Linked DNA regions of Homo sapiens. The protein of the gene in region 1 interacts with the protein of each later gene in a pairwise test. Each region holds a gene or a part of one and is shown on either strand. Other genes may lie near its edges. The genes, in order: SEC31A, TSC22D2, SCYL1 and FHL5.

Region 1 (7,944 bases):
CACTTGACATAATCTTTGTTCTGAGTTTTTTTCCCAATTATAGTAAAATTGGAGGTCTTAACTGTTCTACATTAGATAAATATATGCATTTGTTTTAAAGAGCTAAGCAATGAGAATCTTACAACTAGAGCTGAAGTTCAAGAAATAAATGTCCAATGATTAAATTTTTTCCACTGCTGTTCACATCATGATTTGTTGTGATTAATGTATGTGGATGAGGACATAATAGAAAAAGAAAATGATGAGACTTGTATATATTGTGTTTCTGCACAATGAGTTCCTTTGAATGTTTTTCGTTTTAGGAATAAAATTGAAGGGTGTTTTTCTTAGAGAACATCATTTGTCATATTTATTTGATCAAGAAGTTGAAGATTTATATAATAAGGTATGGGACTTACACATTTATTTTGATAAAAGAACACAGAAAAGGTCAGGTATGAGCAGAAAATTGACATTTATTTCAGCCTAATGTGGATACTGTACTCTGAATTAAAAATTTCTTTTCCTTACTCTTCCAGCTTTTAAAGATAAGTATTATTTCAAAATAGTATTTTTTTAATTAATAGATTCAATTCAGGAAAGGCATTGGAGGGGGTGGAGCTTTTAACTTTGACAGTCTCACTCTGTTGCCCAGGCTGGAGTGCAGCGGCGCAATCTCTGCTCACTGCAATCTCTGCCTCCTGGGTTCAAATAGTTATTGTGGCCCAGCTTCCCAAGTGGCTGGGATTAGAGGCGCATGCCACCACACCCAGCTAATTTTTTTTATTAAGTAGAGACCATGTTTTGCCATGTTGGCCAGACTGGTCTCAAACTTCCAGCCACCAACCTCAGCCTCCCAAAGTGCTGGGATTATAGTCATAAGCCACCACACCTGGCTGTTGGTTATCTTTTCTTAGAAATAATGATATAATCTTTTCAGCACCTGATATTCTTAAAGATCCAGGGTTTACAAATGACTGTTAGATATGCCAAGGATGACTAGCCTATAACTTAAGGATCTGTTCAGGAACAGTAGAAAAGAAGGTGATAGGAAACTGGGAATCTTAAATCTAATACTAGTTCTGTCATGAATTAGGCTTGTTATTGTAGTTGTTTCTCAAATTTAAGAAAATATGAGGGGTCTTGAAAAAGTGCATGGAAAATGCATATCATGAAAAAACTATGCATGGATTTCAAAATTTTTGGACCAAAATAAACTCCTACTAACTTGTTATAACATGTCTGAACAGGATCTAGTTTGAAGCACTAAGAAGAATAAGACATCAGTTTGAAAAGAGGCTCTATCAGAACAACACGAATTCTGCTAAAATTGAAGCAAGAACAAACATCAAATATATGTTGACACTTGGGTGGAAGAATGGTGAACTAATTGATGCTTTATGAAAAGTTGATAGGGACAGTGCTCCAAAGAAATCAGTTTACAAATGGATAACTCGTTTTAAGAAGGCATAAGGTAATGTTGAAGAAGAAGCCCACAGTGGCAGATCATCCACATCAGTTTGTGAGAAAAAAGTTAGTTCATGGCGTAATTGAAGAAAACCAACAATTAACAGCAGAAACAACAGCCAACACCATAGACATCTCAGTTGGTTCACCTTACACAATTTTGACTGGAAAAGTTCAGCAAACTTTATACCTGATAGGTACCAAAACCATTGCACCCAGATCAGCTACAGACAAGAATAGAGCTTTCAATGGAAATTTTAAATAAGTGGGATCAGGATCTTGAAGCCTTTCATTGAAAAATTGTAACAGGAGATGAAACATGGCTTTACCAGCGCAATCCTGAAGACAAAACACAAAGCAGTGGTTACCAAGATAAGTAGTTCAGTTAAAGCACAAGAGGACTGGTTGAGAGCAAAGGTCATGGCAACAGCTTTTGAATGCTCAAGGCATTTTGCTTGTTGACTTTCTGTAGGGCCAAAGAATGGTAACGTGCTTATCATGGGAGTGTTTTGAGAAACTTAGCCAAAGCTTCAGCAGAAAAATCCCCGAGAAAGACCAGAGAGTTCTTCACCACAACAATGTTCCTGCTCATCCCTCTCATCAAACAAGGCCATTTTGCAAGAGTTTTGATGGGAAATCACTAGGCATCCACCCTACAGTCCTGGTTTGGCACCTTCTGACTTTTTGTTTCCTAATCTTAAAAAAATTTTTCAGGGCAGTACATTTTTCTCAAGTTAATGTATAAAGAAACTGCATTGATGTAGATAAATTCCCAGAACTCTCAGTTCTTTAGGGATGGACTAAATAGCTGGTATCATCACTTACAAAAGTGTCTTGAATGCTATAGAGCTAATGTTCAAAAATATAGTTTATATTTTTTATCTTTTAACCATTTTTCCACAAACTTTTTGAAGTCTCCTTGAATATGTACCATTTATAAAGGGGAAAAATTCTGTGACTACTCATGTTGACTTAATGCTGACTTAATTTTCTGTTTTGTAAATATATACAAACAAGTTGATACAAATTTTGTTTATAGCCCTTAAACAAATTTGTGAAATAAATGCATTCAGAAACAAACTAAAACAATGAAATGGATGCTACTGTTTTACTGAGGTGTAAGCATAGTACTGGCTGCTATGGAAAAAGTTACATAAACATTCATGTATCTTGTGATGATTGTTTTGTCTACAACTTCACTCTTTGCAGACATCAAGACTGTTGAAATGAGGGGAAGGGATCTGAATTCCCAAAAGAATGTCAAATGGGCATGGAGGCTCATGCCTATAATCCTTGCACTTTGGGTGGCTAAAGCAGAAGGATCCCTGGAGGCCAGGAGTTCCAGACCAGTATGGGCAACAAAATGAGTCCCTGTGTCTACAGAAAATAAAATAATTAACCAGGCATGGTGTTGTGTGCCTGTAGTCCTAGCTACTTGGGAGGCTGAGGTGGGAGGATCACTTGCGCCCTGGATGTTGAAGCTGCAGCGCGCTGTGATCATTGCCACCACACTCCAGCCTGGGCAACACAGCAAAAACCTGTCTCTAAAAAAACCTAGAATATCTTTGTGCTATGCAAATCCTAATTTGAAAAATTTGTCATTAAATTCTCTCCAAACATTCTTCTAGTGAGCAATTCAGTTTTTATTTGATTCAGGATTAGGCTTGGATAGTAGTTAACTAAATTGGATTTAGTTTTGTGAACTAAAGAGTTTTTCTTTTTTTAGATACAGGCAGTCTTTGCACAGTTCCAATATGCATAAATACCAGTGACCACAGTTAAATAAAACCAGTCCAACAATGTGGTTAATAATTCCATTACCACAGTACTGAGAAAACTTGCATAAATTTTGCTGCTAGCTCTTTAGTCCACAAATCATTGTGCCCCCCCCCCCAAAAAAAAGATGTGCATCATGATCAGTCGCCAGTTACATTACTTTGCTTTCAAAGTTTGTTGATTTGTTACTGATCATCTGTTTAGTTCATGCACAGATAGCAGAGCACAAAGTGCATAGTACTGTTGCCTCCTTGACCCCAGAGATTAAACTTGTGACCATTTATAAAAATGGATAATTAAAAGAGGTAATTGGTCAACAAAGGACAGAGCAGCAAAGAAAAGTGATAATGCTGGAAGTGAAATTGGATGTGATTAGATTTGAAAGTGGTGACAGCAAAGCAAAGATAGGTTGAGACCCAGACCTGCATGAAGCTGTAATACAAGCCTATTGAAAAAGTCTGATAAATGTAAAAAGGTAAAGTTGCTTCAACGTCTTTCAGTTTTAATTGCACTAGGAACAGAAAGCTGCTTGCGGTTGAAATGGAGCATTTACTTGTTTGAATTGAAGACTAATCAAAAACAAATCCCAATCAGTTTGACTAGCATTCAGGCCAAAGTGATAACCTTAGTTACTGCGTTGAAAGAAAATGGTAATTAGAAGACTGAAAGAGAATATATTACTACCAGTAAAAGTTGGGTTCATTATTTCAGAAGTTGGCGTGAATTGATGTTAAGCTGTCTTATGAAGCTGCAAGCTTCAGATGGAATGTTACAGAAGATGTAGCTGACTGTGGGAATGTTAACACTGCTGCTGTTCAAGGGGCAGGATCCTTCTGCTTTAGCTACCCAAAGTGCAAGAGTTGGCTTTGAATGCTAGATGTAATGAGAAAAGAACTTGTCTAGAAGTTAGGAGATCTGGGTTGAATCCAATTTCTGGTAATTTAGCAAGTGATTTTCCTTTGGCTTCACCTTGCTGTAAAATAATTCCTCCCTAAACTAAAAGTACACTTAGGCAACGCATCTAATTAGATTTGAGGTTGTGGAGAAACAGTGGCAGAAGGTGAGTGCTACCGGGTCTCAATACCATGGGATAGTAACAAGTATGAAACGGTACTAATTGGAATTAATATAACACCCCATCTATACCTCTTTGTCCACAATAGCCTTTGGGAATGCCCAGATTGTTTCACTTTGTATAAGTTCTCAAAACGCCAGAATGTGCAATCAAGTGGGTAATTTTAAGAACTCAGTCACAAATTACAATAAAGCCCTTGCAGCCCGATTTTCCACCTGGTTTGGCGCGGGCAGTGTCGCCAGGGGCTGCCGACGCCTCACAGGACTAGTGCTACGTGGCGTTCCTGCGGGCCACGGCGGTTATTCGGCCAGACGGGGACACCCTCTGCACTAGTCCTTTACCCACTAGTCCTGGCTACCCCATCCACATTCTGCGCGCCGCCCCTCAGAAAAGGGTTTCTACGATCGCCGGGGCGCGATGACCGCAGAGCGCCACCAACCAGCGGAGCCGTACCCCGCCTCCCAGGCTACCGCCGGTCCCGGAAGTGCCGTGGCGGGCTGTGCGTCGGGTGGGCGGGGAAAGATGTCGCTCCCGGAAGTGTTGGGCGCAGGGCGTGGCTGCGGCTGCGGCTGCCACGTTGGAACGGAACGTGGAGGTGGCCCTGGCCGGGGAGGAGGGGCGGCGGCGAATGCTGGGAGAGTCCGACGAGCGCTGCACTAACGCAGGATCCGGCTGCCGAAGGTCCTCGCCAGGTGCGTCCGCCCGTTGCTTTTTGTCCTCTTCGCCGGTCCTTAAGCTTTGAGGTAGAGCCCAGGCCAAAACTGGGACCGCAGCCTGGGTCTCCGCTGCCCCGCACCAGCCTGAGGCCCGGTCTCTGGTGACGGCGCGCCCCTAGTCTTGGTTTCGGGCCCGGCGGAACAACGCCTGGCATCTGGACTCCAGTGATCGCGCCCGTCCGCATTCGCCGACGTCTCCACTGCTGAGCAAAAGCCACCCGAGGCTGGCGACAGTGTCTTGCCGGGGAGTAGTAGCCGGGCTGGTAACTGGAGTTTGAGATTAGGAGACTTTCAGACCCTTGTGCACAAAGAGGTGCGGTCCCCGAGGGTGAGGAGAGGAAAAAAAATCTCAGGATTACTTTGGCTTTGGTTAGGATTTTTTTTTGTACTTGAACTATTGCCAGATTTAAAGGTTCATAGGTTTGAACTGACGTCTACTGTCATTTAACTAGGATTATTTTAAGGACGGTGGTAGCCAGGCGCAGCCTGTACTTTGAGGGCAGTCTCATTAAGTGTTACATGTTTTTGCTAATAAGTTGTTAAATTACGGGGCTGTTGTAAAATAAACCAAAATATTGCCTGGACTTGTGGGCATTATAAATTTTTTCTTGCGCTTAAGGAATTAATTTTACGTAGGGCTATTTGAAGTTGCAGTGATCTGATAGTCTGTGACAAATCCTTTCTCCTAACTTATTTTTTCTAACTATAGAAAACTGAAATTTGGTTGTCTTTGTGGGCAGTTATAACTGTATTTAATCGATAAGGGTGTGTTCTTGTTACAGCGTCCTGCGTTTTCTGTACCTCCGTTTATTCAAGAGTTGGCAAAAGCTTACTCTCCTTTTTTTTTTTTTTTTTTTTTTTTGAGACGGAGTCTCGCTCTGTCACCCAGGCTGGAGTGCAGTGGCGCGATCTCAGCTCACTGCAACCTCCGTCTCAGCCTCCTGAGTAGCTGGGATTACAGGCGCCCACCACCACACCTGTCTAATTTTTGTATTTTTAGTAGAGACGGGGTTTCACGCTGTTGGTCAGGCTGGTCTGGCACTCCTGACCTCAAGTGATCCGCCCGAGTTGGCCTCCCGAAGTGCTGGGGTTACAGGCATAAGCCACCACGCCCAGCCTACTCTCCTTTTTTAGTGGTTCTTCTGTGCTCCTTGTTTCTCACTATCCCTTAATTAACAGCTCAGGGAGAGGTTTGTAGACTCTTAAGAACTTTTGGATAACTCGTAGTGTTTTTGTAGTTTTGTAGTGATTTTATCTTAAATACGTCCGCGGTTATTTGTGAAATTTGAAATTTGAGGTGGATTTATAATGATATTGCTTAATTTTATATAAGCAAATTCTTTATTGAAACCAATAACATGGGAATAGAAATAAATTTGTAAACTGTGAAGAGCAATGATTCAAAATTTTGGGGGGATTTCACTGTCTTACGGGAATCTAATGAAAGCATTGGAAGAATGCACATATACACACATGTAGGATTTTCTTTTTTTTTCTTTTACTTTTTTTTTTTTTTTGAGACAGGGTCCCTCTTTGTTGCCCAGATTGGAGTGCAGTGGTGCAGTCATAGCTCACTATAACCTTGAACTTTTGGGCTCAAGAGATCCTCCCGCCTCAGCCTCAGAAGTAGCTAGGAATATGCACGTGGCGCACGCCCAACTAATCTTATTTTTTATAGAGATGGGGGTCTCACTGCGTTCCCCAGGCTGGACTCAAGCTCCTGCTTTCAAGTGACATGTAGGATTTTCTATATACATAATATTATGAAGTTTACAAGTTAAAAACTCCTGTAAGGGGATATTACTAGATTGATTTACATTGATTACATTGTTGTTAGGAATGTCATTAGGTTAATTTCAGCTCAAAAAGTTTTATTATACTGAAGATTAGTATGACACCAATTAGTTCAGTAACCAGTGCACAGTTGCTTTCTCCTTTGATTTGGTTTGGGTTGAGTGAAATGAACCTAGAACATTGAAAATACTAAATAAATCCTCTAAACAATTGTTTCTATCCATATTGAGATATTTTGCCTGCAGAAAATGGATTTTTACTGAAAGCAGTGCCAACTAGGGATTGTATACCTGGTTTGGGAATCCAAGTTCCAATTCTATTACCTCTTTAACTTTTTACTTGCTTTCTGAGTTATGGATCAGCTCTGTATATAGCATTGCAAGGTTGGTATTTTTCAAAGAACAGTGCTGGTGGGTTTTAGTATTGCTTCACAAAATTTACACTTTGAAAATGAGCAGAAATAAAAAAGTTTCCACCTAATTGAATGCAATTATTGAGAGAAAGTTGCATGAAAAATAAAGAGTTCTAGTCTAGAATATAAATTTTCCTCAAGAAATTTTTTTTTTTTTTTATTTTTTTCTGAGGCAGAGCCTCGCTCTGTCACCCAGGCTGGAGTACATTGGCGCGATCTCGGCTCACTGCAAACTCCGTCACCTGGGTTCAAGCGATTCTCCTCCCTCAGTCTCCCGAGTAGCGGGGACTACTGGCCGCGCCATCACGCGCAGCTAATTTTTGTATTTTTAGTAGAGACAGGGTTTCACCAGGTTGGCCAGGATGATCTGGATGTCTTGACCTCGTGATCCGCCCGCCTCGGCCTTCCAAAGTGCTGGGATTACAGGTGTGAGCCACTGCGCCTGGCCGTGTCTGTGTGTATATATATATATGTTTTTTGTGTGTTTTTTTTTTTTTTTTTTTTTTTGAGACGGAGTCTCGCTCTGTCTCCCAGGCTTACTGCAACCTCTGCCTCCCGGGTTCAAGCGATTCTTCTGCCTCGGCCTCCTGAGTAGCTGGGATTACAGGTACACACCACCACGCCCGGCTAGTTTTTGTATTTTTTAGTGGAGACGGGGTTTCGCCATGTTGGCCAGGCTGGTCCCGAACTTCCGGCCTCAAGTGATCTGCCCACCTCGGCCTCCC
Region 2 (7,032 bases), on another chromosome or scaffold:
CATTAGGTGAAGGAAGGAAATTATTGATTCTGCTTCAGTTGATCTTTCTCATTTTAAAAGAGTCAAATCTCACTATGATAACTTTGAACATAATAGAAAACATCTTGATACCCTCATTGAAACAGTATTTTTAAACCATATTCTGGGATCTTGAAATAAAATAGTCTCTTATTTGCTTAAGACTACCATATTGGTATCTCCATCGTAAATATGGCTAAAGCAGTGGTTCTCATACTTTAGTTTCTATCTGAATCGCCTAGAGAGTTTGTTAAAATAGATTACGGGGCCCCGCCCCAAGAGTAAATCTGGGGTGGGTCCAAATATTTACATTTCTAACAAGGTCTTGGTGGGTCCAAATATTTACATTTCTGACAAGTTTCCAGGTGATGCTGATGATTCTGGTTCAGGGACTACACTTTGAGAACTGATTTATCTGAACTCAAAAAATTTTAATGCCTTCCTCATATGAACCATTAATTGTTTCAAATCTATCATATCTAATTACTATCAGTATGCATTGAGTTACTATGTGCTAAGCACTGAATTCACTTATTCACAAAGATGAAGAAGTTATGGAACCTTTCTCAAAGAGCTCAATCTAATAGGATCAACAGTGGTAGTATTACAATACTCAAAGTAATCACTGTCTGTATTGAGTGCTCAGTGTGCCAAGTACTATGCATTATGTAAACTCATTTAATCCTCACAATTGGCATATAATCCTTATTTTAAATGAAAAAACTGAGGTCTAGAAAGGTTAAATAATTTCCCAGAATTCATATAGTGAGTATATGGAGGAGCCAGAATTTGCTATTCTGCCTTTTTGCACTATAAAAAGTTTGCGAAGATTGGTAGACCCCAGAAAGGATGGAGTAATTGGCTCTACCTTAGAAAATCAAACAGCATCACAGAAGAGATGGCACTGGAGCATCTTAAGGGACAGGTCTAAGATAGCCAGATGAATTGGAACTGTGAGCATTTCCAGCTGAGGGAGCAGTTTCTGCAAAGCCAAGGAAACCCGAGAGAACATATGTTCCACAGACTACAAATAGTTGTATAAGACCATAACACAATAGGCAGATGGAGTATAAGAGGAAAACAGACTGTATAAGGCAGAGGTCAAAGTCATAAAGAATTTTATATGCCAGGCTAAAAAGTTTTAAAAATAGAATTAGGCTTCTTAATTTTTCCTCCTATAACTTTCATTTGTAAGCCAGCAGTTCTCAAAGCATAGTCAGACAGTAGATTCCACATCATCTGGGAACTTGTTAGAAATGCAGATTCCTGGTTCCATGCCTACTGAATCAGAAACTCTGAGTGGGGGAGCCCAGCAACCTGAGTTTTAACAAGACCTCCAGATGATTCTGGTGCATGCTAAAGTTTGAGACCCCTGCAGTAGGTTATAGAATTCTTGAATAATAGCCTTCAAGATAGTTAAAGGTCACTATAGTGGTAGTAATTATATTTGACACTGATTTATTCTATTAGAGTACAACACCTAACAGTTGAAATATTAACACCATTTAAGGGATACATCTTCATCATGATCTATTTATACCTTGCAAACCTGTTTCTTCTGTTGTCATAAAAGAGATCTTAGGACAAGAGTTTGTTAGGTCAGCATTCAAAGAATAGCATGCTAACTATTCTTCCTTAGCTATGGGAATCATTCTAAAACTCGCTGACTGATTTTAATTATCAAAAAAAAACCCCAGTAATTTTTGTTTTTTTTACTGCTTGTTAATACATAAAACTGATGTTGTAGTTAGTATTTAAGGTGTGCTATTTAAACCAAATGTGTTGAAGGAATCAAATGATTTAAGTCATGACATGACTTAAAAGTAATTCAATCTTTCCTTGTCATGTCAATAAAAATATAGAAAGTATAATCTGGGATTCCCAAGCAAACTAATTTAAATGCCTGTCACCGTCTTTTTTGCCAAAATGTGTTCAGTATTTGTGGTGAATATGTCTGCATGGTATCTGGCACTGAAGTATATACTAAAGCGTTATGGTTGACTTAGTGGTTCTGTAGTTTATAGTTACATATAGTCATACTTTGCACAGCTCACTAAAAGCATTTAAAGCCCAGCACATATAAAGTATTTGTTAATGATCCATAAATCCTTTCTAGATATTAGATATACAAAACCTCTTTTCATCTTAGAAATAGTAGCAGCAAGAAGTGAAGGTAGTATGCTGTAATTAATGTGGTTAATGCTCAAATAAACAAACGTAGTTTCCCATGTAATGATTCAAGATTTCAAGGATTTAGAAGTGGAAAGTCCATTGAGGCATTGACATCAACCCCTTGTTTTACAGATGGGGAAACTCAGATCCAGGGAAGTTAAATAGGTGATTTGCTGATGTCCCATAGGAAGTGAATAGCAGGATATCACAGGACAGGATATTTCTGAGCCTCAATCTGATACAACATTATGGGTCCACACCATCTAAAGTAAAGTAGTTTCCAGGTATTTTAGCACTAAAATCTTAGGTGGAGTATACTTTATGAAGAATATTTAGTAACATATAAAAAATTATCTTTTCGTATTGATACAATAAGCTACAGTATCAGATTTTTCTTTACAAGAGTAATTTTTAAAAACCTAATAACTGTTTTTAGAAATAAAATTCATTAAAAAACAATAAAAGGGTATAAATTCCAGCTATTCTTACTACTTAATACATGGTAGAATATAAACCACCAAAGAGGACAATTAGCCTTCTGTGTTATTATCATACAATTGCTAAGGTGATATTTGAACTTGGAATGTGCTTACAGGCTGGATAACTTTTCAGTTATTCCCAAGAAGAACTGATCTAAACCACACATACCTTATAGGTGATTTTTGCCAGCAAGTAACCTACAGTCAAATACATGTAGGTCTGCCAGAATGTTGTTTCTTTTTGTTTTTTTTTTTTTTGTTTTTTTTTGAGATGGAGTTTTGCTCTTGTTGCCCAGGCTGGATTGCAATGGCGTGATCTCGGCTCACTGCAGCCTCTGCCTCCTGGGTTCAAGTGATTCTCTTGCCTCAGCCTCCTGAGTAGCTGATTACAGGCACCCGCCCCAAGCCTGGCTAATTTTTTTTGTATTTTTAGTAGAGATGGGTTTTCACCACGTTGGCCAGGCTGATCTGGAACTCCTGACCTCAAGTGATCCACCTTCCTTGGCCTCCCAAAGTGCTGGGATTACAAGCGTGAGCCACCACGCCCGGCTGAATGTTGAGTTTCTTGTTAACCAATCCTACCCAAAGACTTTCTGAACCATTTTTAGAAGCCATTAAGTTTTTTTTAAAAAACTAGATGTTAAAGTATAAAACTTATACCAGAAAAGTCTTACTAAGAGGAGGGACTAGAAAAAAAAAAGTCAAGCCATCATCTGAATTTTACTACAATAAGTAATTATTGGAATTTCTACATGAAAGGCAATTAGAATGTATAGTTGGTTAATGTAGAAATTTAAGAGATACGGAGAAGACACTGCCCATTTAAAATGTATCCTTTTAAAACCACTGAACAGAGAAATTCTTAATACAATTGAGAGTTAGTTTTAAAGTAGCATACATGTATTACAGGCAAATTAGAAATGTTGGCACTACAAAGGACCTGTAGAAATCATCTATTTACTGAGACTTTCATTTTAGAAATGAGAGCTTTGAGTACTGAAATTGTCAGAACAGAATAAGCTATTTTAAATTACTGTATATTTGGTTTTAAGTGAAACACAAATGTCTTTTACATTCTTTTAAGAGTTGGAAGGGAGGTTAAATTTTTTAGAATAATAACATATTCTAATTTTTTCCAGTGCATCTGGGGGAGGTGTTGTAGCCATTGACAACAAAATAGAACAAGCAATGGTAAGTAAAAGTTTACAGTTCTCCCATTTCATAGATTGTTGGTTGTATGGAACACTTAGCTTTTGTCAGTTTTAGAAAACAAATAAGTTATTTAAACCAAAGATGACCAAATCATGTTTTTTGATAATGAGATTTAGTTGAAGATGCTAGAACGTTGAGAACTTTTAGTCTAGAAATACTATTTAAGTAGATATTTCTTCCATTTGAATATCTCACATTTCATGCATTATCATTGATAAGGGCCATTGGTGAGGGGGCATACATATTTAAAGACAATATGTTCCCCAGATATTTCAGCATTGAAAATACTTTAGAGTGAAAAAGAGTATTAAAGCAAAAACAGCTGGAGGTCTGATTGAAGTAGACTGTAAGTAAGCTATAAGTAGGCCAGGCACAGTGGATTGTGTCTGTAATCCCAGCACCTGAGCTGAGGTGGGAGGATCACTTGAGGCCAGGAGTTTGAGACCAACTTGGGCAACATAGCAAGACCCCGTCTCTACAAAAAAAGTTGGTATTTTTGTTTGTTTTGAGATAGTCTCGCTCTGTCACCCAGGCTGAAGTACAGTGGCATGATTTTGGGTCACTGCAACCTCCACCTCCCAGGTTCAAGTGATTCTCCTGCCTCAGTCTCCTGAGTAGTTGGGAGCACAGGCACACACCACCACATCTGGCTAATTTTTGTATTCTTAGTAGAGACGGGGTTTCACCATGTTGGCCAAGGTGGTCTCAAACTCCTGACCTCAGGTGATCTACACGCCTCAGCCTCCCAAAGTGCTGGGATTACCGGTGTGAGACCTTACAGGACTGTTAGTCTCAAACTATTTTTTTAAAAATACCAAAATTTTAAAGTCCAAAATTACAGATCACTTTAAAGCAGTACTATGACTAGTTTAACATCAAACAGCTTTCCGTTGGAATATTGTTCCTTTGTTCTCTTTATCTACCATTTTAAGCATGTGATTTTAAACTTTTTTTTTTTTTAATTCTAAGCTTAGTTGACAATTTAAGAAGCTAGTATTTTTTGGAAATCGTCCCAAACTTTGAAAAGAAAATTCTGGGCTTACTGCTCTGGTTGGGAACTGGATTTTTTCCAACCCATCTTCCATAGGCTCGGTCAAGATAAAGCAGAAACATTAAAAGCAAGAGCAGGAAAACTAGTATAAAAACTTAGCACCAAGTAGGCCAGAACCAGATAGCACCACCTTTATCTTTTCACTCTTTTGACATTCCTAATTTTGTTTTTCACAGGATCTGGTGAAAAGCCATTTGATGTATGCAGTAAGAGAAGAAGTGGAAGTTTTAAAGGAACAAATAAAAGAATTAGTTGAAAGAAACTCTTTACTTGAACGAGAAAATGCACTGTTAAAATCTCTTTCAAGCAATGATCAATTATCCCAACTCCCAACCCAACAGGCCAATCCTGGTAGCACTTCTCAACAGCAAGCAGTGATAGCACAGCCTCCGCAGCCAACGCAACCTCCACAGCAGCCGAATGTCTCCTCAGCATAAAGCTTTCTTAAGCCTCATTAAGAAAAAAACTGAAAGCAATCTATCCTTGTGTGCCACTGGTGTTCTTTCCACTTTATACGAAAGCAAGTAGCCATGCTTTGGTTGTGTGTTTGGCCTTTTCAGTATTAGACAATCATTCTACAAGAGCTTTTCCTCTCTCTGAGATGTCATGCAGCGCTGTTGATGTCCAGTTCTATGTCATCAGTACACAAGGAGAATAATAGATGGGGTTTATTAAAGCGAGCAAAGTCTGCATTTTACCTGGTGCGCATGAGTGGGGTCTTTAAGAGTTTTGGTGGCTCTCCCATGTTTCCTATTACCCATGGATTTACCCTGAGCCTTCCTATCACATTATAAATAACAGTTCATCTAAAGAGCCACTTTTCTTTCTGATTCAGTAACATTTGCCTACATAAGTTTTCATTTATTTGTGTTTTATTTATTACAGGGCTGCTATTTTCATAATGTACATGAACAATGTCACAGAACTTTTTTAATTTTTTTGAATAATTATAAGTATCAGTAAAGGAAGTGAAAGACAGGATTGCATTTAATAGATAAAACGTTTAGGCAATAATTGAACAAAAGAATCCTGGCATATTTCTAACACTAATGGCAATTTACTTATGGTATTTATTTTCAGTAGTAAAGACCCAGCTTGAATGTAAATTTTGTATAGTGTAAGTATGAAGAACATAGTGCAACTGTACAGGTAGTCACCAGTTATTGTGATATGATAAATAATTGGGCTATTTTGATGAAGAAAACTTTGTTCATTTGTTTCTACTTTCTAAGAGAAATTGCCACGATTCCTCTGCTTTTCAACATTTCGTATGACTTTTTTTTCGGGTGGGAATAAAAAGCTGTGAAATTGTTCAACCTACTTTGTAACCAAAGAAGCAAAGCTGTGTAATGGAGTTTGGTTTTTTTTTGTTGTTTTTTTTTTTTTGTCTTTTTTTTTTTTTATAATGCACATTCTTTATGTATTTTTATTTAGTGTTTTCTCAGTCACAATTTTCTTTACTGTCTAGCATGATCTGCATGACCTATAATCTTTGAACCACTTTCGTACCTCATGTTTTTATCCAGCACTCTTATTGTAATATGTACTAGTCTGTGAACAATGTCAAATAAAAGAGAACGAACAGGTAGTTTGGTGGAGCTGAGCTAGTGTACAATACACTAGTTGTAAAAAAAAAAAAAAAAAAAAGTGAGCCATCTTTTGTTCATTTAAAATGGTGTTTTGAATTTCGTATGCAGAAAACGTTTTGTTACATTGCAGATTTTAATGTATTTAATAAATGCAACATGCAGATTAAGTGCAGTGTATACTGAGTATTTAAATTAAAATGTACATTTCATAAATACAGTTTCAAAAGAAAGCATCATTTTGTGTATACTAACACATTAAGTGTATGTCAGAAATTGATGTATAAATATATATTTTAACATTTTCTGAAATTAAACTGCAGTTTTGTTGAAATATTTGGCTCTATATGTGTTCAAAATTTGACTAGATTTGTATTTTCACAGTTCAAAATACTCCTTAAAGACCTGTTAATAATGACTTACTGATAGTTCTTAAATTTTCAAAGTAAAACAATTTAAAGAATGCAAAAATAGTGAGCAATATTTGTACTCAATATTCATATTATGTTAGTGA
Region 3 (4,154 bases), on another chromosome or scaffold:
GGGACAGAAATGGGGTCCCTTTCTTCAACATGCTGGACAGGGCCAGGCCCAGGCTGGGAGGTGGCCTTGCAGGCTTTGATGGGTGTGCTCTGGGATGAGGGCTGCCAGGAGGCTGTTCCTGCACAAGGCCCTTTGCCCGCCACAGCCCACAGTTCCCACTCATTTCTGCCCCACAGTCCATGCTGCTCCTGGCCCCAAAGCTGAACGAGGCCAACCTCAATGTGGAGCTGATGAAGCACTTTGCACGGCTACAGGCCAAGGATGAACAGGGCCCCATCCGCTGCAACACCACAGTCTGCCTGGGCAAAATCGGCTCCTACCTCAGTGCTAGCGTGAGTGTCCTGCACAACTGCTGGAGCCCGGTCCCTGTCGCAGGACCACAGCCTCCTCCAGGGCCAGGAGTCTTGTGTGTGGGGGCCTTCATTCTCCCAGAGACTTAGACCCTGCACGCTGTTGGCCCCATATCTGGGTTCCCAGAGGAGGAGTGAGTTGGCCGAAGTCACACAGTCAGGAGGGATCTGGGATCTGAATCCAGGCGTGCTTGGCCCCATGGCCTGTGTGCATCCCTTCAGCCAGGGTTTGTAAGTTCAGTTGCTTGCCGTGCCCAGACAGTTAACAGGAATGAACGGTCAGCTGGGCAGGGAGGAAGGGAGCCTGTGTCCGAGCCCTGGGGACAGCTGCTGTTGTGGTCCCATGCCCTGAGGCAGTGTGGAACCCAGTGATTTGGGAAGAGAAGCCCAGGTCCAGAGTTTTAGGTCAACTCTCCCCATTTAAGTGATTCATTCATATTTTTCAGATTCTGGGGACCTATGGGTGGTCCCATTCTGGGAAGTAAGGGCTGGTGGTTCTGGGTCCCAACATTGACCCTACACTCAGGAGCCCTCTTTCCTGCCCCATCGTAGACCAGACACAGGGTCCTTACCTCTGCCTTCAGCCGAGCCACTAGGGACCCGTTTGCACCGTCCCGGGTTGCGGGTGTCCTGGGCTTTGCTGCCACCCACAACCTCTACTCAATGAACGACTGTGCCCAGAAGATCCTGCCTGTGCTCTGCGGTCTCACTGTAGATCCTGAGAAATCCGTGCGAGACCAGGTGAGGCACAGCTGGGCCTGGGCCCTGGGCTGGGGCTGTAGGGGATGTCAGCCCCTAGCTGGCCTGGTAGGTTCTTGGGAACCCCAGAGACCCCAGCTCTGCCTCGTTACCCCACAGGCCTTCAAGGCCATTCGGAGCTTCCTGTCCAAATTGGAGTCTGTGTCGGAGGACCCGACCCAGCTGGAGGAAGTGGGTGAGTGGCTTACACTCGTGTTCCCTCTTTCCCTGCCATGTCCTTGACTGTGACCTGTTTGTGTCCCACCCCCACTGGAGTTTCTGAAAGGTCCTAGTGAGCAGACTTGACTCAGCTCCCCCTTCACAGATGGGAGAAATCAGGCCTGGAGAAAGGAGGGGTGGCTGCAGGGCACTGTCAGTTCCTGCTGTCCTGTCACCCATGGGTGCCTGACGTGCCCATACCCACCTCTCTCTCATGCCACTGCCCAGAGAAGGATGTCCATGCAGCCTCCAGCCCTGGCATGGGAGGAGCCGCAGCTAGCTGGGCAGGCTGGGCCGTGACCGGGGTCTCCTCACTCACCTCCAAGCTGATCCGTTCGCACCCAACCACTGCCCCAACAGAAACCAACATTCCCCAAAGACCCACGCCTGAAGGTGAGTGTCCTGGCCTAGCTGCATCAGTGGCTGAGAGGGCTGAGAGCTGCAGGCACCCAGGAACTCTTACTGTCTGACTCCCCCGGGGATGGTGAAGGGGATATAGGAGCTGGGTAGGCTCCAGTCACCCTGTGGGCTTCCTTGGTGCCCCTTCCCCCCAGTAGCCCCCTTCCCCTAGCAGCCTCTGCCCTGTCCCAAGACCCCCCTGAAAGCTCAGTGAGCCTCTGCTCCCCAGGAGTTCCTGCCCCAGCCCCCACCCCTGTTCCTGCCACCCCTACAACCTCAGGCCACTGGGAGACGCAGGAGGAGGACAAGGACACAGCAGAGGACAGCAGCACTGCTGACAGATGGGACGACGAAGACTGGGGCAGCCTGGAGGTGTGTGGGGCTGAGGGAGCCTCCCCAGGGGACCCCAGCTCAAATCCACAGGCTGCCATTCAGGGAGCTTCTGTGGGGCCTGGCTGGAGTTGGCCTGTCCTCATCAGCACAGCATCCCTGGCACGTAGGCCTCATGGAGTGGCCATTGTAGGCCAGAGCCAGCAGCAGGCCCCATTCAACCCCAGCGGCCCCAGGGAGCAGGCTAGGCAGATGGTGCCTGGGGCATTCCCTGAACTTCCTCACTCTTACCCACACCGTCCCCCTTTCCCCTCCTCCAGTGCCCACCCAGCCATGGGGGTCAGCAAGGAGAGGCCACTCCTGGGTCTAGAACCAGACCAGTTCTGCTTGGGGGATGGGCTCAGGTTGGGCTGAGGGAGGACTGGGGCTGTCCTCAGAATGGGGCAGAGCTGGGGGCCCAATTTCCCCATCTGGCTGACAGCAGCAGTTTCTGGCCCTCAAGGCTGTTGGAAGGGGCATCTAGATCTCATTCCCCAGCCTTAAAGAGGGGTGAGGGCAGGCCAGGGTCAGCGTCCATTTAATAGATGGGAAACAGGGCCTGAGGAGCAAATGAGGAGGAAGGCAAAAGACAGTGGTGGGGCCCGTGGCTGGGATGATGCTGGGGCGGGCTCACTTGCCCTTTAGCATGGGGTGGGAGTCAGTGGTCCCTTCCCACACTGCAGCAGGAGGCCGAGTCTGTGCTGGCCCAGCAGGACGACTGGAGCACCGGGGGCCAAGTGAGCCGTGCTAGTCAGGTGAGCTGGGTCTGGTGGGGAGGTGTGTGTATGGGGCTCTTTCCTCCTTGGGCCCAGGGCTACTTCCCCCTCCCGCTCTTCTACAGGTCAGCAACTCCGACCACAAATCCTCCAAATCCCCAGAGTCCGACTGGAGCAGCTGGGAAGCTGAGGGCTCCTGGGAACAGGGCTGGCAGGAGCCAAGCTCCCAGGAGCCACCTCCTGACGGTACACGGCTGGCCAGCGAGTATAACTGGGGTGGCCCAGAGTCCAGCGACAAGGGCGACCCCTTCGCTACCCTGTCTGCACGTCCCAGCACCCAGGTACCCAGCACAGGTCTGGCGAGAGGGTAGAGATGGTGGACCTCAGCCAGAAGTGGGCCCCACTGCAGCCCACACTTCTCTTTACAGCCGAGGCCAGACTCTTGGGGTGAGGACAACTGGGAGGGCCTCGAGACTGACAGTCGTAAGTGCTTCCCCTGGGTGGGCTGAAGACTAGGGCTCCCCGACTAGCCCGCCCCTACAGGCCCCCGGCAGGCACTGGCTGGAGAGCTGAGACCGGGGCTCCCCTTCCTGACGCCAGGACAGGTCAAGGCTGAGCTGGCCCGGAAGAAGCGCGAGGAGCGGCGGCGGGAGATGGAGGCCAAACGCGCCGAGAGGAAGGTGGCCAAGGGCCCCATGAAGCTGGGAGCCCGGAAGCTGGACTGAACCGTGGCGGTGGCCCTTCCCGGCTGCGGAGAGCCCGCCCCACAGATGTATTTATTGTACAAACCATGTGAGCCCGGCCGGCCCAGCCAGGCCATCTCACGTGTACATAATCAGAGCCACAATAAATTCTATTTCACACCCCTTGTGCCGGGCTCAGTCTAGCCCCTGGGAGGCGGCTGGGGTCTGGCGCCGCCCTGCGCAGCCCGCGCCCACGTCAGACGTGAACATCAATTTGCTTCGAAAGCCAAGGGTAAAGAGGCACGATCTGATTTATCAGTTTCTAGGAAACACCCTCTGGGAGGAAGGCAGGCAGCGCCCGCCGGAGACCTTACAACCGCCCGCTAACCGGGGAGGGGGGCCGGTAGGGGCGCCTCGGGTCTCAAGGCGCCGGGAGGGTCTGCGGGCCCTGAAGGTCCCTGGGTCCGAGCCACAAGTCGGGGCAGAAGTGAGGCCGAGCTCGCGGAAATCCCTCAGTGATCACCGAGGTCTGGGCCGAGGGCGGCGTCGGCGGCGTCAGCGGCGGCGCTGGGGAACGCAGGCCCCGTGCGGGCGGCTGCGCGCGAAGCCGGCTTTGCAGACGCAGCGGAAGGAGCCGCTGGTGTTCACGCAGCGCTCGCTCTTGCACAGCAGCCCGCGCT
Region 4 (7,032 bases), on another chromosome or scaffold:
CTTAACCTACCTTTGGCTATCTCTTTCTTCCCCCTACCCTTTTCTGCTTCCAGTAAGCACTATTCTGCTCTCTCCTTCTATGAGATTGACTTTTTTAGCTTCTTCATATTCATGAGGACATGCAGTATTTATCTTTCTGTGTCTAGCTTATTTCACTTAAAATAATGTCCTCCAAGCTCATTCATGTTGCCGTGAATGACAGAAATTTGTTCTTTTTTACAACTAAATAATACTTCATTGGGATATATAGCACTTTTTTTAATCCATTCGCCTATTGATGGAAACTTAGGTAATTTCATATCTTGGCTATGTGTTGTGAGTAGTGCTGCAATAAACATGGGAATACAGATATCTCTTTAACATACTGATTTCCTTTCCTTTGGATATATACCCAGTAGTGGGATTGTTGGATCATACGGTAGTTCTATTTTTAATTTTTTGAGGAACCTTCAAACTGTTTTCCATAATGGGCATATATATGCATATATTCCAAATAACATATAAGAGTTTGTGTTTCACCAAATCCTTGTCAGCATTTTTTTTTTGTCTCCTTGGTAATAGCCATTCTAACTGGGGTGAGATTATATCTTCTTGCGGTTTTGATTTGCATTACCCTGATGATTAATGACATTGACCATTTTTTGTACCTACCTGTTGGCCATTTGTATGTCTTCTTTAGAGAGATGTCTATTCAGCTTATTTGTCTGCTTTCTAATGTGATTTTTTATTTGCTATTGAGCTCATTTTATATTATGAATATTAAACTCTTGTCAGATGAATAGTTTGCAAATACTTTCTCCTGTCCTGCAGGTTGTCTTTTTTCTCTGTTGACTGTTTCCTTTGCTGCGCAGAAGCTTTTTAGTTTGACATAATTTCATTTGTCTATTTTTGCTTTGGTTGTCTGTGCTATTGAGGTCTTATCCATGAAATTTTTGCTCACACCAATACCCTGAAGTATTTCCCCTATGTTTGCTTCTAGTTGCTTCATAGATTCAGGTCTTATATTTAAGTTTTTAATCCATTTTGAGTTGATTTTTACATGTTATGTGAGGTAGAAATACAGTTTCATTTTTCTGCATATGAATATTCAGTTTTCCCAGCATCATTTTTCAAAGAGACTGTTCCTTCCCCATTAAATGTTCTTGGCAGCTTTGTTGAAAATCATTTGGCTGTAAATATGTGAATTTATTTCTGGGTTCTCTATTATGCTCCATTGTTCTATGTCTCTATTCATATGCCAATATCATGCTATCCGGGTTACTATAGTTTTGAAATATATTTTGAAGTTCAAAATGTGATTTCTCCGGCTTTGTTCATTTTGCTCAGGATTGCTTTGGCTATTCAGGGTCTTTTGTGGTTTCATATAAATTGTAGGAGTTTTTTTCTGTTTCTGTGAAGAACATCACTGGTATTTTGATAACATTGCATTGAATTGGTAGATCACTTTTAGTAGTATTGTATTAATTTTTACAATATTAATGTCTACAATTCATGAACATGAGATATCTTTCCATTTTTTGTGTCTTCTTCAATTTTTTTTATCAGTGTTTTGCAGTTTTTATTGTAGAGATCTTTCACCTCCTTGGTTAAATATATTCCTACATGGCTTTTTTTGTAGCTATTATAAATGCAATTTGTTTCTTGATTTTTTTTCCACTAGTTTGTTTTTGGTGTATAGAAAAGCTACTGGTTTTTGTATTCTTTTTTTTTTTTTTTTTGTATCCTCCAACTTTACTGAATCTGTTTATCAGTTCTGAGATTTTTGGTGGAGCTTTTATGATTTTCTATATAGAAGCTCTTGTTATTTGCAAATGAGGACAATTTGACCTCCTTTTCAATTTAGATGCTCCTTATCTCTTTCTCTAGCCTAAGTGCTCTGCCTAGGGCTTCCAGTACTCTTTTGAATAAAAGTGAGATGATTGTCTTCCAAATCTTAGAAGAAAAGCTTTAAACTTTTCTCCATTCAGTGTGATATTGGCTGTGGGTTTGTCATACATGGCTTTAATTATGTGGAAGTACATTCCTTCTATACCTAACTTGTTGAGAATTTTTATCATGAGGGGATGTTGAATTTTTCTCAAATACATTTTCTCTATCTCTTGAGATGATCAAATTGTTTTTGCCCTTCATTTTGTTGATGTAATGTATCACATTTATTCATTTGTATATTACATCCCTGAGGTAAATCTTACCTACATGGTGAATAATCTCTTTAATGTGCTGCCAGATTGGTTCACAAGTATTTTGTTGAGGATTTTTGCATCTATGCTCATCATGTTCATTGGCTTATAGTTTTCTTTTTTTGTTGTTGCATCCTTGACTAGTTTTGGTATCAAGGTAACACTGGCCTCATAGAATGAGTTTTAAAGAATTCCCTTATCTTCAATTTCTGGAAGAATTTGAGGAGAATTTGTATTAGTTCTTCTATAAATCTTTGGTAGAATTCCAGAGTGAAGCTGTCATATTCTGAGCTTCTTTTTGATAAGAGACTTTTTATTACAGACTTAATGCCATTACTTGTAATTGGTCTGTTCAGGTGTTCTCTTTCTTGTTGGTTCACTTCTGATAGATTGTTTGTGTCCAGGAATTTACCTATTTCTGTCAGGTCTTCTAAAGTTTTTGGTATATAGCTGTTTATAATAGTCTCTGATAATTTTTTGTATTTCTATGGTATTAGTTGTAATGTCTCCTTTTCATTCCTGATTTTATTGGGACCTTTACGTTTTTCTTGGGTAGTCAAGCCAATGGAATGTTGATTTTGTTTATCTTTTCAAAAAAATTCAGCTTTCCATTTTGTTGATATTTTGTATTTTTTAGTCTTAATTTTATTTATGTATGCTTTTCTTTCTTTCCTTCTAATTTTGGGCTTGGTTTACTCTGCTTTTCTAGTTTCTTGAAGTGCATCATGAGCTTGTTTATTTGATATCTTTCTACTTTTTTGATATAGGTGTTTGTTGCTGCACACTTACCTTCTAATACTGCTTTTGCTATACCCCAGATGTTTTGGTATTTTGTGTTTCTATTTTCATTTGTTTGAAGATATTTTAAAATCTTCCTCTTAATTTCTTCATTGACTAATTTGTTATTCAGGAACATGTTGTATAATTTCTATGTATTTGTACAATTTTTAAAGTTCCTCGTTATTTTGATTTCTAGTTTTATTATATTGTGGTCAAAAATTGATATGATTTCTATTAAATTTGTTAAGATTTGTTTTGTGGTCTAACGTGGTCTATGCTAAAGAATGTTTCATTTTCTAATGAAAAGAATATGTATTTTGCAGCTGTTGAATGAAATGTTCTGTAAATGTCTGGTAGGTTCATTTGGTCTAAAGTGCAGTTTAAATTAAATGTTTCTTTGTTAATTTTCTGCCTGAATGATCTGTCCAATGCTGAGGGGTGTTGAAGTCCCCAGCTATAATTGTACTGAAATCTATTTCTCCTTTGGGTTTAATTATTTGCTTTATAAATCTGGATGTTGTGGTATTGGATGTGTGTATGTTTACAATTGTTACATCTTCTTGCTGAAGTGAAAATAACCTTGTCTCTTTTTGTTTAAAGTCTGCTTTACCTGATATAAGTATAGCTATTCTCCCTTGCTTTTGGTTTCCATTTGTATGGATTTTTTTTCCATCCCTTATTTTTATTCTATATGTGTCTTTTTAGGTGAAGTGAGTTTCTTTTAGGCAGCATATACTTAGGTCTTTTTTTTTTTTAATTCATTCAGCTAGTCTATATCTTTTCAGTTGGGAATTTAGTCTGTTTACAGCCAAGGTTATTATTGATAAGTGAGGACTTAACATCCACCATTTTGTTGTTTTCCTGTTGTCTTGTATATCTTTTGTTCCTTTCTTTTTCTCTTATAGTTAATCATTGTGGTTTGGTGGTTTTCTGTAGTGACAAGGTTTGATTCTTTTCTCTTTCTCCTCATATATCTGCTCTACCAATGAGCTTTATACTTTTGGTGTGTTTTCATGACAGTGATTTTCACTTCCAGATGTAAGTGAAAATCACTTAAGCATTTCTGGTAAGGCCAGGTGAGTGGTGACAAATTCCTTCAGTTTTTGCTTACCTCGAGAAGGCTTTATTTCTTCCTAATTTCTGAAGGATAACTTTGCTGGGTATAGTATTCTTAGCTAGCAATTTTTTTTCTTCTTTCACCATTTTGAGTTTATAACTCTATTCTCTCCTCGCCTGTGAGGTTTCTGTAGCAAAATTTACTAGTCTAATGCAGTTCTCTTATGTGACTTGACAATTTTCTCTTGCTGTTTTTAGAACTCTCTGTCTTTGACTTGTGACAATTTGCCTATAATGTACCTCTAAGAGGACCTTTTTGGGGTTGAATCTATTTGGGGAATTTTGAGTTTCCTGGAGCTGGATGTTCAAATATCCCTCCTCCACAACCCCCACCACTAAATTGGGAAGTTTTCAGTTATTATTTTATTAAACAGGCTTTCTATACTTTTTCCTTATCTTCTCCTTCTGGAAATTCCATAATACAAATATCTGTTTGTTTAATGTTTTCCAATAAGTCTTATAGGAATTCTTCACTCATTTTCATTCTTATTTCTTTTTTCTTTTCTCTGACTGGGTAACTTCAAAAGACCTAGCTTTAAGTTCAGAGATTCTTTTTTCTGCTTGATCAAGTCTGCTGCTGAAGCTCTCTATTGTATTTTATATTTTATTCATTGAATTCTTCAACTGCAGGATTCTTGTTTTGTTCTTTTTATGATTTTTATCTCTTTATTGAATTTTTCATTTATATTGTGAATTTTTTTCTTATTTTATTTAATTGTGTATCTGTGTTTCCTTGTATCTAATTGAGTTTCCTTACAATCATTATTTTACATTTTTTTGGCAATTAATTGATTTCCTTTTAATTGGAGTCTGTTACTAGAGAGTTATTATATTCCTTTGTTGGTCTCTTATTTCCTTGCTTTTTCATGTTTCTTGTGTCCCTGCATTGATGTCTGTGTATCTAGTGAAATAATCACCTTTTTCAAACTTTCTGGAGTGATTTTCATAAAGAAAGTCTTTCATCCTGCAGTTGAGTTTTACTGTGCAGTTAGAAAAGGTGTAGTGACTCTGTTTCCAGATAGGTATAGAGATAGAGTCTCTGTGCAGCTTCTTCAGTTGTATTCAAGGTCAGGAATAACTGTGGGTGCCTCATAGCCTACGCTTAGAGGTTTGTGGCAATGGCACTGGCAACATAAGTTTTTAATGTTCTTTGTGTTAAGGGCTTCTGGGGTCCTCCTATTCTGGTTTTCTCTAAAATAAGGAGACTTAGCTGAGCGCATCCCTTTTGGTGTCAAGTCTGACATGGCCTACAAGCAGCTGCAGTGGCATGGGTTCTACGTGCAGTGATCAGGATTCTACATGCAGTAGGAGTTTTCAGCTCAGTATCTCATAAAGCTATTGAGGCAACTGGGCTTGGGGTGCAGCTTCACCCCTTGTGGCAGGGTTGGATGTAGGTTACCCATAGAGCCAGGATCTATGATTCTGAGGGACCCCCTAGCAGCTCAGGCTCAGGGTGCCAGGTTGTAGCTGTGATTCTACCCCTGGGGGGCAGGGCACAGCACTGGCCTGACTCCAGGGAATAAGGAGTGCTCTGGAACTTTGGCCTTGGGAGCAGGGTATGGCTGCAATTCAGAAACCTGAGTCAATAGGGCTCAGTGTCAACTCAGGTTCCAAGGGATGAGGCACTGGGTAGTAGTGATTGTAGACCCTGGGATAGTGGTGCTCAGCAGTATCCCAGAATGTGTGGGGCCAAGTGTATTTGCTTTCAGTACTCCAGAATGGTGGAGGACAGCTGTTGTTTGTTCCCTGGGTGACAGGTGGGTAGGAAAAAACACAGCAATGACTCCACTCCCTAGATAGAGGGGTACTTCTGCATCTGAGACTCTAGAGAGCTAGGCCAGTGCTGGGGAATCGAAGTCTAAAATTGTTCAGTTTATAGAGCAAGGTGTCTCAGCTCAGTTTCTGCTCAGCTCAGCCAGAGCACTAATTCCCCAAGGGACAATGTGCCACTTCAGCTCAGGCTTGAAGGATGTGACTGTTCTGGGCTGCACAAGCACTGTTTTCTTGGGATGCGGGGCATCAGTTCAGCTTAAGTAATGGAGTGCATGACTGCTCTGGATGGCCAAGGCACAATTTCCTAGGATGCAGGGCACCACTTCAACTTAGACACCAGGGAGACATGACTGCTCTGAATAGCCAAGGTACTGTTTTCCCAAGAGACAGGATGCTGCTTCAGCAGGGGCAGGGGGAGGAGTTGGTAGAGCAATTCCACCTCCACTTGACCCCACAGGAAAAAGTGTTAACAGCTGTTAACAGCACATATTGGGGATGTGGGGCTCTGGGGATGGGGTGGTTCAGGGGTGGTTTAGTCTCAGGGATGAAGGGGAGCCATGACTACTTACTCCTTGAGTAAGGCTCAGTCTAGCTGTAGTTCCTGTTCCAAGATGCCATAGCCAATAGTCACATGGGCCACAGCAGGTGGGGCACAGTGTCAACTCCTTCTCTGGCTAAGCACAGCTATATAGACTCCAGGCAGCTTCACCATGTGGGCTTGGTGCCTAAGAAGACTGCAGAGAACACCAGTGGGAAGGTCTGTTGGTGTCCAGGGTGTTGATGGAGATTGTTGGAGTCATCCTGCTTACCTCCTCACCATAAGAAGTTCCTCCTGGCTTCCAGCTGATCCCACTTGGGGGATGGGATGGTGAAGGCCTGGCATTTCCTTATTCTCTATGTAGCCATCCTGAGTTTTTGTGCTCACCCAAGTTTCTATTAGTTTTAAAATGCAGCTGCTTTTCCATTGTTCTGGCTGTCTTTGACAGAGGCATAAGCACTAGGGGCTTCTAGTTGGCTATCTTGCTGCTATCTCTCTGACCTTTAATACTTTTAGAAAGAAGATTAACCGTTCTCCTGATCAAGGTATCAAACTATTTATTATCTTTGACAGTACCAAAAAGTCATACATACATGTAATTCATTCATTCATATTTTCATTCATTTATTGATCAGTTAGATCAAG

Evidence for each region.
Region 2: the proteins of SEC31A (region 1) and TSC22D2 interact in a two-hybrid assay, tested with the Homo sapiens proteins (one study listed by BioGRID).
Region 3: the proteins of SEC31A (region 1) and SCYL1 interact in binary tests that used the Homo sapiens proteins (3 or more experiments, as listed by UniProt).
Region 4: the proteins of SEC31A (region 1) and FHL5 interact in binary tests that used the Homo sapiens proteins (3 or more experiments, as listed by UniProt).

Annotation. Positions count from the first base shown.
Region 1 is NC_000004.12:82,888,133-82,896,076, reverse strand, and holds the start of SEC31A (protein transport protein Sec31A), read left to right. Parts: upstream 1-4,923; 5' UTR 4,924-4,925; coding exon of another isoform or gene 4,926-4,989; intron 4,990-5,011; exon of another isoform or gene 5,012-5,382; intron 5,383-7,944. UniProt on the Homo sapiens protein: Component of the coat protein complex II (COPII) which promotes the formation of transport vesicles from the endoplasmic reticulum (ER).
Region 2 is NC_000003.12:150,453,268-150,460,299, forward strand, and holds part of TSC22D2 (TSC22 domain family protein 2), read left to right. Parts: intron 1-3,808; coding exon 3,809-3,860; exon of another isoform or gene 3,861-3,865; intron 3,866-5,108; coding exon 5,109-5,369; 3' UTR 5,370-7,032. UniProt on the Homo sapiens protein: Reduces the level of nuclear PKM isoform M2 which results in repression of cyclin CCND1 transcription and reduced cell growth.
Region 3 is NC_000011.10:65,535,051-65,539,204, forward strand, and holds the end of SCYL1 (N-terminal kinase-like protein), read left to right. Parts: intron 1-176; coding exon 177-332; intron 333-902; coding exon 903-1,091; intron 1,092-1,208; coding exon 1,209-1,284; intron 1,285-1,535; coding exon 1,536-1,700; intron 1,701-1,935; coding exon 1,936-2,078; intron 2,079-2,758; coding exon 2,759-2,830; intron 2,831-2,916; coding exon 2,917-3,132; intron 3,133-3,200; coding exon of another isoform or gene 3,201-3,219; coding exon 3,220-3,274; intron 3,275-3,391; coding exon 3,392-3,516; 3' UTR 3,517-3,654; downstream 3,655-4,154. Other genes in the region: LTBP3 (latent-transforming growth factor beta-binding protein 3 isoform 1 precursor), read right to left, coding at 4,030-4,154. UniProt on the Homo sapiens protein: Regulates COPI-mediated retrograde protein traffic at the interface between the Golgi apparatus and the endoplasmic reticulum. Involved in the maintenance of the Golgi apparatus morphology.
Region 4 is NC_000006.12:96,566,125-96,573,156, forward strand, and holds part of FHL5 (four and a half LIM domains protein 5), read left to right. Parts: intron 1-7,032. UniProt on the Homo sapiens protein: May be involved in the regulation of spermatogenesis. Stimulates CREM transcriptional activity in a phosphorylation-independent manner.